Linked DNA regions of Homo sapiens: region 2 is linked to region 1. The links come from fine-mapping of genetic effects on gene expression. Tissue or cell type: whole blood. Region 1 holds a variant in brackets; the other region holds the start of a gene. All regions are shown on one strand. Distances are between the middles of the regions.

Region 1 (7,170 bases):
GAATATTTTAAATCAAGTCTCAGACATCATAACAATTATCTGTAAGTTATTAAAAAAAATTTTTTTTTTTGTAGAGACGGGGTCTCACTTGTTTTCCCAGGCTGGTTTCAAACTCCCAGCTTCAAGCAATCCTCCCACCTCGGCCTCCTAAAGTGCTAAGATTAGGTGTTAGCCACCACTCAAGGTTTATAATTTCTTCAGAATGTGTTTCTGACAACTTTTTTTTGCCTAACCACCATGCCATTATCACAACTAACAATTTCAACAATAATTATGTTTATTAAAATTAAGGCTCACGCCTGTAATCTCAGCAATTTGGGAGGCCGAGGCAGGCGGATCAACTGAGGTCAGGCGTTCGAGACCAGCCTAGCCAGCATGGTGAAACCCCGTCTCTACTAAATATACAAAAATTAGCTGGGTGTGGTGGCGCATGCCTATAATCCCAGCTACTCAGGAGGCTGAGGCAGGAGAATCCCTTGAACCTGGGAGGCGGATGTTGCAGTGAGTCACCGTACTCTAGCCTGGGTGACAGAGGGATACGCTGTCTCAAAAAAAAAAAAAATTAATGAAAGTAATTAAAGTTTAGTTATTTAATAAATGACAGCATGTACATTCTGAAAAACAGAATATGTGCAGTATTCTGCAGACAGAATAATTTGAATAAAATTTGAATTTAAAAGATACCATTTCAAACTGTAAGCCCCCTAAAAATCAGTGGACCTTGGCTTCACTTGTTTAAATCCTCATGGCTTCTAGAAGTTTTGGGTGGGGGGACATCTTTAAAAATTATTTTTCTAACAGAAGTCTTACTATTTTTCAACTTATTTTCTATGAGTCCTAGGAGGTAGAAAGAGATTTTTCTTGTCTGATAGACTTGAAAGTATTGGGTTAGGTAAGTGGAAGAAAGATCATATTTAGAAGGTAACCGTTGAATGTTTAATCACTATTGTTTTGACATCTAGAAGTATTGTCATAGGTTACAATTTAAACATCAGAAGATGGGGGTGTATGAGAATATCACATTTAGGGAGATGTCAGTTGTCCAGAAGTTTTGCAGAGAATCTGGAAAATAAACATGAGAGTAAGTTTTCTTTCTTTCTTTCTTTTTTTTTTTTTGAGAGAGCTTTGTTGCCCAGGCTGGAGTACAGTGGCTGGCTGACTACAACCTCCGCCTCCTGGGTTCAAGCAATTCTCGTGCCTCAGCCTCCTGAGTAGCTGGGATTATAGGCGCCTGCCACCATGCCTGGCTAATTTTTGTATGTTTAGTAGAGACAGGGTTTCACCATGTTGGCCAGGCTGGTCTCGAACACCTGACCTCAAGAGATCTGCTCACCTCAGCCTCCTAAAGTGCTGGGATTACAGGCATGAGCCACGGCGCCTGGCCGAGAGTAAGTTATTAATAGTTCTACTGATGTCAGAAATAAGATGTAGTCTGAATTCCATGAATTGTTTCCAGTTAATGGAAAGTTGAATTGTGGTGGAATTGGTAGGGAAAAAAAGCAGTTATGGTCCTCTGTCTCCATTCTAGTTCATCCTTATTTAAAGAATATTACTCCAGGCAGTGAGCACATGCGCGCGGTGGCTCATGCCTGTAATCCCAGCACTGTGGGAGGCCGAGGTGGGCGGATCACCTGAGGTCAGGAGTTCCAGACCAGCCTGGCCAAAATGGCAAAACCCCGTCTCTACTAAAAATATAAAAATTAGGCCAGGCGTGGTGGCTCACGCCTGTAATCCCAGCACTTTGGGAGGCTGAGGCAGGTGGATCACCTGAGGCTGGGAGTTCGAGACCAGCCTGACCAACATGGAGAAACTACGTCTCTACTAAAAATACAAAATTAGCCAGGCGTGGTGGTGCATGTCTGTAATCCCAGCTACTTGGGAGGATGAGGCAGGAGAATCGCTTGAACCCAGGAGGCGGAGGTTGCAGTGAGTTGAGATCGCGCCACTGCACTCTAGCCTGGGTGACAGAGCAAGACTCCATCTCTAAAAACAAAAAAAGAACATTTCTTCAACAAAATAAATATATTCACGTATGCATAAATTTTTTAAAACTTTTTTTCTTTTTATAAAAAAATCAGTTTTCTCAGGTTGAAATGTTAAAATCACCTCTGATGAAGATAGAGAACTAAAATATAAAATATGGGTTTGTCTCTGATTCCTTTTTGGTTTATAATAATTTGCATATGGCTTTCCATGGATCACTTTAGCAGTTTGTGCTAAAGTCATTAGTTCTTCCTAAGATACAAAAGAAATTCTCAAAATGCTTGTTTCCTATTAGGCAGGGAAGTTGTTTTTCTCATCTCTCAAGTTGCATGACCAAAAGTAGCAAAAATACTTTATCTCTAGGGAAGTGAAAGCTTGCTTCTCAAATTGCTTTAGTGAGGCTTTAGGAAATGGCCCCTGGCTGGTATCATAGGATATAATACCGTCTTGCAAATAGTAATTTTGAATTCAGTTCTTTGTATCTATGAGATAAAAGAGTCTTCTTCCATTGACTGTCTTAGATGGGCTTATCACATTCAACAGTATTTACTGAGCATTTGTTTTAAGAAACTACTACCCTAGTTGCTAACTCATTGCTCCCTAGACATTGTATTTGGATTGAGGAGCAGAACATAGACATCAACAAAACAGATCTGGAACCCGATATCATGTACCTCTAAATGTGAAGTATGCGGTAGAGCTAATGTTTTGTCAGAGTTTAAAGAAGGAAGCAATAATATGGGCAAAGTTGTTGAGCAAGGCTTCAGGGAGGAAGTAGAACCTGAACAGGCTTTTAAAAACACTGGCACCATTTGGATTGGTGAGGAGGCGGTAGAAGGGTGTCCTCTCTGGGTGGGACAGCACAAACAAAGGTGTGGGAACAAAACTCAACAAGGCACATTTGGGCAACACTTGGTTGAGCAATTCCATGGGAGTGCAAGACTCATGGGCGAAATCATTG[G/A]AAGCCACATGGTGGAAGGCTTTAAATGTCAATGTGTTCTTCATGCCATGGAAATTCAGAAGGCTTGGCAGTTTGCAGGAAAGACCAGAATTGAAGAATACAGGAGCTGAGGGGATCAGGGGACTGCTATAACAACAGGGAGTTGACAGAGCACGAACTCACATGGGAGCTCTGAAAGTGAAAAGGCAGGGATGGGTGTGGAGGGCAGCTAGAAGAATGCTTTGCAAGACTTGAAGAATGACTGAAAACTAGGGAAGATGGGGGAATCCAAAACATTTCATGGCTTTGGAATTTGGTGACCAGGCAGATGGTCATAGAGGGTCAAAGCTGTCCACGAGCTCCAGCAACAGGAGGAAGCACAGCATTCTGTGCTCAGACTAGTGTGGCAGGCCTGCAGAATGCGTGTGGGCCCTTGTTCCTGTGCTTGGCTGAGGGCTTCCTGAGAGCAGTTGCTCCATCTCTGACCCACCGGACCACTACTGCCTTTGGATCCTGGGTGGTGGGCTTCACTCACACAGTCGAATGGGTTTCTCATGCCTTTGTCCCTGGGCTACAGTCCTCCACTTCACACCACACCGGTCAAGATGGAATGTGGCCACATTATCTCACTACAGCAAACATGCCCATAGTTTGCAAATTTGGTACATCAACCGCCACGCTCATAAAGATGATGGTTTGGACCAGGATAGCAGGAGTCTGGTCAAGAGATTAATGCAGGGTCAGAGATCAGGAGTCTTATCATCTTGATCTCTGCAAGCTAATGATTTATCCTTCTTCAATTGCTTAACATTAATCACATTTATATAACATGAGGCCTAGGAACAATACTTGACCCCACAAGAGATTGTGATTCCAAACAACTAGTCAGATGTTCCTCCTTTTGTGGTTTTATTTCATTTGCATTCTTTTTTATTTTGATATTTTTCAGTTTGGCCTTTGTAATTGCAAACAGCTTAAGGCAATTCACCACCCAACCCACTTCACTTATTTATGTTTCCTGCCTGGCTCAGCAAGCACTTGAATTTAAACTCTGGTCTACACAAGGTCAAGATATTCAGGTCAAATGTCTATTAAATCAAATGTTTTCTATATTCTACACAACTAGTAGAGTTCAGAGGATCAGAGATTTGGGGACCTGAAGGGGGTCTTTTATTAATTCCCCCCTTGCATTATGGTTGAGACAATCGAGGTCCAGAGGGTAACGTAACTTGTGTTAGGGACCAATTAAGGGCTGGAGTCCATGTCTTGAGTTACATTTTAAGATGTCAATTGAGAACGGATACGGGTTTCTTAAAACTCAAATTTATCCTCAATCTTGAAATTTATTCAGTTATTCATTTAATAAATATTTGTGGATAACTTATTATACAATAGGCACAGTGCTAGGAGCCATGGGCATAGGTGTGAACAGACAGACAGATCTTGCCCTCATGGAACTTGTTTTCTTTTCTTTCTTTTTTTCTTTTTTTTTTTTTTTTGAGAGAGTCTGGCTCTGTTGCCCAGGCTGGAGTGCAGTGGTGATCTTGGCTCACTGCAACCTCCACCTCCCCGGTTCAAGTGATTCTCCTGCCTCAGCCTCCCAAGGAACTGGGATTACAGGCACCCACCACCACGCCTGGCTAATTTTTGTATTTTTAGTAGAGACAGGGTTTCACCATATTGGCCAGGCTGGTCTCAAACTTCCAACCTGAAATGATCCACCCACCTTGGCCTCCCAAAGTGTGAGCCACTCTTACAGGTGTGAGCCACTGCACCCGGTCAGAACTTGTTTTCTGATGCTGGTAGTTGAGGTGGGTGCTATGGAGGCAATAAGTACGGACACATGAGTAAGGAGTGAGGCGATAAGTGGTCATTTTAGATTCTTTAAGGGAGTCCATCTTACCTAATTTTTTCAATAATATCACCAGAATCAATGATGGCACATCTGCATTTTTCAGTTAAAACACATAACACATTTAGGTTACAATGGAACACAGCTTTTCAATGTACTAAAATGGCTGTTTTTTTGTTTTTGTTTTTGTTTTTGTGACAGAGTCTTGCTCTGTCGCCCAGGCTGGAGTGCAGTGGCATGGTCTCAGCTCACTGCAGCCTCGGTCTCCCAGGTTCAAGCAATTCTTGTGCCTTAGCCTCCTGAGTAGCTGAGATTACAGGTGCGTGCCACCATGCCCAGCTAATTTTCTTTTCTGTTCTGGTTTTTTATTTTGTTTTGCATTTTTAGTAGAGATGGGGTTTCATCATGTTGGCCAGGCTGGTCTTGAACACCTGACTTCAAGTGATCCACCCGCCTTGGCCTCCCAAAGTGCTGAGATTACAGGCATGAGCCACCGTGCCTGGCCCTAAAATGGCTGTTTTGAGTTGACACAGAGCCATGTCCAAACACCCGTTTCCACTTCGCCTATTTAAATTTCCCTCCTGGCTCTGCAGGCATTGGAGTTTCGACCTGAGATTCTATGCCAGGCCAAGATATCTAGATTGTTTGCATTCTATATCAAAACATATAATTGGCCAGCCGCGGTATCTCACGCCTGTAATCCCAGAACTTTGGGAGGCTGAGGCGAGCAGATCACCTGAGGTTGGGAGTTCGAGACCAGCCTGACCAACATGGAGAAATCCTGTCTCTACTAAAAATATAAAAATAGCCGGGCGTAGTGGCGCATGCCTGTAATCCCAGCTACTAGGGAGGCAGAGGCAGGAGAATCGCTTGAATGAGGGAGGCAGAGGTTGCGGTGAGCTGAAATTGCGTCATTGCACTCCAGCCTGGGCAACAAGATCGAAACTCTGTCTCAAAAAAAAAAAAAAAGAGGCCGGGCGCGGTGGCTCACGCCTGTAGTCCCAGCACTTTGGGAGGCCGAGGCGGGCGGATCACGAGGTCAGGAGATCGAGACCATCCCGGCTAAAACGGTGAAACCCCGTCTCTACTAAAAATACAAAAAATTAGCCGGGCGTAGGGGCGGGCGCCTGTAGTCCCAGCTACTTGGGAGGCTGAGGCAGGAGAATGGCGTTAACCCGGGAGGCGGAGCTTGCAGTGAGCCGAGATCCCGCCACTGCAGTCCAGCCTGGGCGACAGAGCGAGACTCCGTCTCAAAAAAAAAAAAAAAAAAAAAAAAAAAAAGAAAAGAAAAGAAAAGAAAAACACATATAATTAAATTATTAAGTAAAAATTATTTGTGGCATGGTGTTTTGTAGATTTTGCCTGATCCAGAGAAAAGGTAATCAATGCATGTTTATTGACCACATCATTGATTTGTAGGAGTCAAATTATGTTAAAGTAGCCAAAGTTAATCTATCACAGAATCATAGTATTTTGTGGCTAGAAGATATTTAACAGATGACTTAGTTCAGCTCCCTTATTTAATAGATGGGAAAACAGACTCTGAGGGAGGCCAAGTGGCTTACAGAAGGCTACACAGATAGAAGTTATATATGTTATTTACAGTACATCTACTGTGGTTAAGAGAGGCCTCCTTGCATTTATTTTAGAGCGGAGTTGGTAGAAATAGTTAGATATAGCAGTTTAGAGCATGAGCTCTGGTGTCAGACAGACCTAGAGAAAATTTAAGTAAAACTTAAAATTTACTTGACTATGTATGTGCCCCTGGGATATTAGTTAATATCTTTTAGCTGTAGTCTCCTTATTGGAAAAATTGGCAAAGTTAGAGTTCAGTTTAGGGTTAGGGTTAGGGCCTCTAAGTTTTAATAATTGGTAAAGGTTATTATTATCCATTTTGTACCATCAACATGTCAACAGGAGTATAATGACTTAGATGGAGTCATATACTCCTCTCGGGAGAGATATAATTTTTTGATAGAAGCCTGGCCAACATGGCAAAACGCCATCTCTACTAAAAATACAAAAATTAGTCAGGCATGGTGGCCCACGCCTGTAGTTTCGGCTACTCTGGAGGCTGAGGCAGGAGAATCACTTGAACCCGGGAGGCAGAGGTTGCAGTGAGCCAAGATCATGCCACAGCACTCCAGCCTGATCAACAGAGTGAGACTCCGGCTCAAAAAAAAAAAAAAAAATTTTATTAAAAAAAGTTTGCTCAGGCCAGGCGCAGTGGCTCATGCCTGTAATCCCAGCACTTTGGGAGGCCGAGGCAGGCAGATCATCTGAGGTCAAGAGTTCGAAACCAGCCTGGCCAACATGGTGAAACCCTGTCTTTACTAAAAACACAAATATTAGCTGGGCGTGGTAGTGGGCTCCTGTAATCCCAGCTACTTGGGAG
Region 2 (7,170 bases), 100 kb after region 1:
TGAACACTTAAAGAATGAAAGTAGAACTCTTATCCAGTTTAGTTCAGCAATTCTCTGCTAAATGAAATTAAGCTGCTTTAGTTGAGCTTTTAAAATATGAGGATGAGAAGCATAAATCCAAAGGATTTTGTAGAACTAGCATCCGGACTGTCTTTCTTCAGATTATGTTCCTAGAATCTGGGTTCCCCAGGGCAGCCTCTCATTACTGTCAGTATTAAGGACTAGAAAGGAGCTGGAAGAGGCTTGGCCGCTTTTATAGGTTTTTGGTAGTGGCATAAAGATTTCACTTGGTTGGGGGAGGGGGGTAGGGGGACAGAAGAGTCTGTTGTGGAAACTAAAAGAAAAGAAGGGGAGAGTGGTCTGAAATCAAAAAGTCTGGATTACGTATACAAGCTTTGAGTTGAACAAGGTTTAAATTTTAGCTCTGCTACTTTTTAGTTATGTGACCTTGGGCGAATGGTTTAATCTCTCTAAGTCACACTTTGCACATTTAATAATGTTTCTTACCTTATAGGGTTACTGTGAATATTAAATGAGCTAATACATGTAAAGCATTCCTACCCAGAACATAGTCAGCTCTAATAAATAGTGACTGACAGACAGCTACAAGGGCAGATAACCTATATTCTCCTTCAGTTTCTTATGCTCCCTCTGGAATGTCTCAGAAGCATAGGAAGCACTGTTTAAGCCTCCTGCAATCAAAAATCATTCTTTTTAATTAGCCCTAATAGACCCTATGGTTTTTTTTTTTTTTTTTCCAAAATCTATTCATAGTTTAATGTGGGCTATGGACAAAGGTTCACTTTGTAAGACTGTCTAGCTAGGTTAAAAATAAAATATGCAGAAATGTGTGGAACTTCAACAATAGAATATAAGAAAATGAATTATTCTGAACTGCAAACAAAGGCATTGTAGTATATGAATGTGTATGTGAAGTAAAAGTTTGGAAAGTATAAACATCAGTATGGTAACAGTTACTACATCTGGGAAAGGGAGAAAGATTGGAGAGGAGGTGGGATATACCTTATTATTGTTTTAATGTTTTATAGATGTATTTACATATTGTTTAACTAAAAACAAACAAACAAAAAAAGCAAAGTCATGTACAAGCAGAAATAAACATTTAGAATACAGAATTTGTGGAATAAACCAAAGTAGACAAAAATCAAAGAATTTATCCCTGGGGCATTCAATGACTTGATACAAGGTCACCTTCTACTTAGTTAACTGTCCTTGAGGAGTAAGGAGAGCGCAGGGGCAGGAGAGATGTCTGATCCTGTCTCCAGCAACTGATAGACCCAGGTTAGAAGTTAGATGAAGCTGCCTGCCAGTTATCTTGGTAGAAACTTCTTTCTGCATGTACTCAGATAAGACATCAGTACCCTGGGTGGTTCTCTGCAAAATTCAAGGTCTGCAGAGTCACCAACTGAAGTCTATTGGTAAACTTGCTTTTAAGCAAAACAAAACCAAATGGCAAATTAGTATTTCTATTAGTACATTTTGATAACAAAGAAAATAAAAGACAATTTAAAATTTATGTAACTTAAATCTACATTGCTTAAGAACATCTGACTGAGGAGTTTTAGAATATCCCCAATACCATGAAATAAATACAGTAATTAAAAGGCAATAGAGTTTAAATACTGGATAATGGGCTATGGCATTTTTAAAATTAGCAAAACATTTGTTTATTATTGAAAATTAGGGCTGGGCCTGGTGGTGGACATCTGTAATCCCAGCAATTTGGGAGGCTGAGGCAGGAGGACCACTTGAGCCCAAAAGGTCAAGACCACCCTGGGCAATATAGCAAGACCCCGTCTCTAAAAAAAAGAAAAAGAAAGAAAGAAAATTAATTTTCATAAAGGGCTCTTCCCTTGGAAAGAAATATTTTAGCTACAGAGAAAAACTAAGAAGCCTTGTGGAGCTCTGTGAAGTTGCACTGACTTGCTTTCACTTAGCTTGCAGCTCACTAGTGAGATTTCACATGGTACTCCCACTCCAAGAGCAGGGGCCAGGACAGGTTGGTTTCATTTTGGTTTGAATGCATATGCTTTGGCCCACAGACTTGGAGAAAGATTTTGCTTTACTGATGAGAACTCAGTCAAGGGTGCTTGGGAGCCTTCGCTGGCCCTCTAGCTGGGCCTGACATGTTGCCTGCATTTCTAGCCTTGCCTTCCCAGCTTGCCCATTTGGTGCAGGGAGATAGTCCAGCCCACCCTGAAATTCACTGTGTTCTGCGGATGAGTTAACTGAAGGGCTGTGTTTCAGGAGTGGCACAGAAAGGACCTGAATGAAAGGAAGGAGGAATGAATGGAGAGAACCATTTTGGTGGAATTGCCCTAGGGTATTAAATAGGATGGGGCAACTGGGGACTGGAGGATGTTCCTTCTCTTACGTTGCTTAGGAAACACTGTCCTTAAGAGTGTCAGTGTCATTCCTTTAACAATCATTCATTTCTTACCTCCCGCTTGTGTATAAATTTGCAGATTTACACAGACCACCAGTGTGGCCATCCCAGTGAACTGAGTTTATTGTGAAATATACATGCAAAAAAATCCTTTTTTCTCACCTACAACCAATGCAACATTATTCATACTTTGAGTTGAAGAATAAGGAGTTTAAGAAATAAATGCATACAGCAACATAACCCTGAATTATCACTCAAATACAGACCTCCCACTGCTCTCTCCCAAAAAAAAAAAAAAAAAAAAAAAAAAAAAGGCAGTTATTCTAAGCAAAAGCAAAAATTGAGGCAACTTAAAATAGACAATTTTAAATGCTGGATTCCATCATTTCTGTAAAAGGTCATTCTACTCCTTTGCTATTTATACCACAGATAGAGACACAGCAAATTATTGGCTGAATGGATTTGGGAAACCAGAAGCTGCTGCTTCTGACGAACGAAGATGATAATGCATCACTTGAGACTGAGTGGATGAAAGGTGTAGAAAAGTTGAACCCTTCAAAGATGAGAGGAAGCTGCTAAATTAGCCCCTGACTAAATTACTAGCCATAATTGTACTCAAGCCAGTTCTCTTTGCGACTGCCTTGTAATCTTTGTTGTGGCTTGAGAGAGAAAAATCCCCATTCCCAGCTCAAACCCGTTTAAGGCATCTCAGCCCAACCCCCTCCTCCCAATGCAACTCTTCATAGCCCCCTGCCCCTCCTCCAACAAATTCTAATCAAGTCAGGTATAGTTCTCAGCTTTACCACTGCCATCAGAAGCACGGCTTACATTAAGGGTTTAGCAACAAAACCTCAGGCTTACTTCAGGCAAACATTCAAAAGCATTTAAGAGAAGCACAGAAAACAAAAGAAATAAGCAAAACCTGTCCTTACCCGCTTCTTAAAAAATTGGAAGGCTGAGCATTTCTTGACTGGGAATCCATTCATGTCTTTGTTTACCATTTTCCACCGTGGGGAATTCACAGTTATAGATCCAGGTTGGCACCCGCCTGGTTAGTGCATATCTGTTTCCCCGGTTTACCTCCTGCAGACAGTTAATGAAGACTGAGCGGGATGGAGAATCTAGCGGGGCTCAGTTCTTCACTCGCGCATTCTGCAGCACCAGCTACTGCAGCAACCTCTCCCCACTTTCAGTTGCCACCGACAGCGGCTTTTCTCCTTCCATCATTGCTCCGAAACATATGCATCACCGCTGCAGGACCCTGGGGGCCGGACGGTGGGATACGGCCAATCTCCGGGGAGATGCTGTGGCTCTTACCGAGCGGGAGAAGGGTACGCCTCCCCGCCCCCAGCTACCTGGCTGCTCTTCCGCGGCCGGCGCGGGGAGCGAGTCGCTCTTCTCCAGGTGATGCGCTCCTGGAGGCGGCTTGAGAGAGGAGAGTTGTTTTTGATTGTGCAAGTTCCAGTGGGAGCTGTAGTTAAGCAGCTGAGAGAAGGAGTAAGAAAGAGCAGAAGCCAGAGGGAGGGAGGGAGAACAGCGCCAGAAAGGCAGAGGGAGCGAGAAGGCGAGGCTGGAAGAAGCAACGGTTCATGAATATCTGAGCAGCGGATGGAGAGAAGGCACAGCCGGCTCAGGGCACACTGAAGAGCAGTTGACTCCCCTTGGGAGGGTTACTTTAAATAGCTTCTTTTCTTTCTTTCTTTTTTTTTTTTTTTGGTTAGGACCATTTAAATCAGAGTTTCATATAAATTGCACACCGTTTTTATTTTATGCTCATTGACATTCTTTTGAATCCTGTTGCTGAATAAAAGCCTCTCAACGGAAATGTAATCACATTTAATCTCGACCTGTCCAAACGTGGAAGAAAATGAAATAAAGTGCAAGCGTAGGTATAACAATGGAAGATCTCTCACTATGTAGAAGCTCTTTTAGCCTCCCCTCCCCTACTTGTCATTATATAGTGGGCAATGGTGACGGTAATTGTGTCTTTTTCATTAAAACAGCTTATTAAAAAAAGAACACAATGAACATATACAAAGTACTTTATTACACACATACACACACACACGAGTTATTACCAAAAAGTACTACTGAATCCATTTAATGATGAGGAAGGTTTGATAAATAAAAGAGTAAAGCATTCTTCCTATTAGGTGAAAAATTTCCCAAAAAATCCTTACTCATGTTATCCTTTGCACACTGAGCTCCTTTTAAAAAAGCCATTTAATTGTATGTGGCTTATTTTTCCATTTTTATTCTTTAATGTTGATATTTTATGGGAATGATTTTAAAGATTAGTTGATAGTAAAGCAAGAAAGCAAAGAAAATAAACTTGGCATCTGACCTGGCAGAAAGCCACCAACATCGGTGTGTGGCTTTCTGCCATCACCTGACCTCACTGTGCCTTTCGGACACTGCCTCATCCATAAAATGGAGGCAGCCACTCATTCATTCATTCACTCATTCATTTATTTAGTCATTCATTATTTGCTATTTCATTCCATTAATAAATCTAACTCTGACAAGTGTCCTCAGGATGTGGAGCCTTTTCATAATCATCACAAGGGAATATAATTGATAAATAAGTGAAAGGCGCAATGCTAATTTGAAACTGATTATGACCTCATTATATATAACACACCTAACATTGTTAAAGTATTTACATGGAAGTCTCTGGTAAGAAGAGAAACATCAGGTTAAACTGGGAAAGAAATGCATGGGTTTCATTGAATTGGACTATAAATCTCTACAGTTGGGCCAGAGTTTTTGGGAATAAACATGAAATCCTGTTTGCTAAATGCCTTGAGGTTTCCAAAAAGAAAATGCAATACAACTAAATGATGGCATGATAACCAAGGGAAAACAACTATTCATTTTGGAGAGATATGTTAAGTTGTCCAAGATGCAAGTATATGTTATGTAATCTACAACATTGATAAGTTTTTGTGGTTCTTCTAAAGAGTTCATTTAAAATTATGGTAGTTCAAAGGGAATTATTTTGAGACGATGGAAGTGTTCTCTATCATGATGATGGTGGTGGTTACATAACTATGCATTTGTCAGAACTCATCAAATTTTATATAGGAAAAGGGAAACTTTTGCTGCATGTAAATTATACCTCAATGGACCTCATTTTAAAAAATGATGGTCATTCAAGTTCTTTCTTTTTCGTCCCATTGCCACTCCCCCAAAAGTGTTTTAACAGACATTTATTGAATTTGAGTAATATACAGGAGGGGACCTTTAAGCACTCTGCTAGGAAGGAGGTGCTGGGGCTTTGCTTAATCCCACATTGGCCTAGCATGCATACTGGTTGATATCATTTGGCTGTGTCCCCACCCAAATCTCGTCTTGAATTGTAGTTCCCACAGTGAGTGATTTCTCATGAGATCTGATGGTTTTATAAGGGGCTTTTCTCCCTTTTGCTCAGCACTTCCCCTTCCTGATGCCATGTGAAGAAGAATGTGTTTGCTTCCCCTTCTGCTCTGATTGTAAGTTTCCTGAGGCCTCCCCAGCCATGCTGAACTGTGAGTCAATTAAACCTCTTTCCTGTATAAATTACCCATCTCACTATGTCTTTATTAGCAGTGTGAGAACGGACTAATACCCTGGTTTCATGTAGGATGTATGTTCATTTGGGGTGCAGGCGGGTGGTTAATAGAGATTATGAGGGAGGAGAAGACAAGCTAAATGCTATCTTTTCCCTCACTCCATGCCACCTCTTGAAGATGCTGCCACTGTCACTTGGTCTATGCTAGATCCTATGGAAGGTCCAGTGCATGTAAGTGTCACTGGTTTTTGTCACCAAGGAACTCACAGCCTAGTAGAGAAATATACAGTGTGGTAAGAATACTATATACAGTAGTCCTCCCTTATCTGAGGTTTTACCTTCCACAGTTTCAGTTACCTAAGGTCAACAATGGTCTGAAAATCAGTGAGTACAATACGATACTTTTAGAGACACAGAGAGAGACCACAGTCACATCATTTTTATTATCGTACATTGTTAAAATTATTCTACTATTGTTGTTAATCTCTTACTGTGCTTGATTTATAAATTAAACTTTATTATAGGTATGTATGTACAGGAAAAAACATAATGTATATGGAGTTTGGTACTATCTGAAGTTTCACGCATCCATGGGGGGGGTCTTGGAATGTATCCCCCATGGATAAGAGTGTACTACTCTGTGTGTGTGTGTGTGTGTGTGTGTGTGTGTGTGTGTGTGGTGTGTATGCATCAACCCTGCCTTAATTTGGAGGGGGGAAGGGTGGGGCTGGATGGGTAAGAGAGGTCCAGGAAATTTACCTAAAGGGATGATGTTAGTGCATGGCCTTAAAGAATGAGTAGGTCAGTCAGATGAAGGAAGAGAAGTATAGGGCAGGGATTCTGACTATATCTGACAGCCAATTATTTTGGATTATCTTTTGATTGGTGCAATAATAGAGAAATGCATTAACTGCACTGTGTTGGTTATTCAGGAAAAGAAGGCATCTTTCATCTCACTCTGACCTCTATTTTCATAAGTAAAGCTGCCCTCAGGTAAGCCCAGAGTGACTACTGTTTACTAAATGTTTCCTTTGACAGGTCCACTGTTGATACCTATAAAGGAGCACAGGCTCCTGCTTATAATAATAAAAAAAAAAACTCTGGACTCATGCAACATCTTGTTTATAAATCAAACTTAATTTAATTAATTAACTCACTTCTTGTTCCCATAAAACACACTTATTTATTTTTGTAGCACCAGCACACAGCGGAG

The links. PIP is the estimated chance that this variant, and not a neighbour inherited with it, causes the effect.
Region 2: SGK1 starts here. The variant in region 1 is fine-mapped to the expression of SGK1 in whole blood (INTERVAL, PIP 0.97).

The regions. Positions count from the first base shown.
Region 1 is chr6:134,214,032-134,221,201 of GRCh38, forward strand. The region is part of intron 2 of SGK1 (serum/glucocorticoid regulated kinase 1); the gene reads right to left. Among named protein-coding and RNA genes, the nearest start is that of SGK1, 100 kb to the right of the region's middle. The variant G/A (reference allele first, on the strand shown) is at 2,945.
Region 2 is chr6:134,314,053-134,321,222 of GRCh38, forward strand. It overlaps SGK1 (serum/glucocorticoid regulated kinase 1), which reads right to left and starts at 4,060. Exons shown (of 14, transcript NM_001143676.3): 1 at 3,340-4,060. The coding sequence starts at 3,408. RefSeq lists an enhancer at 3,608-3,887.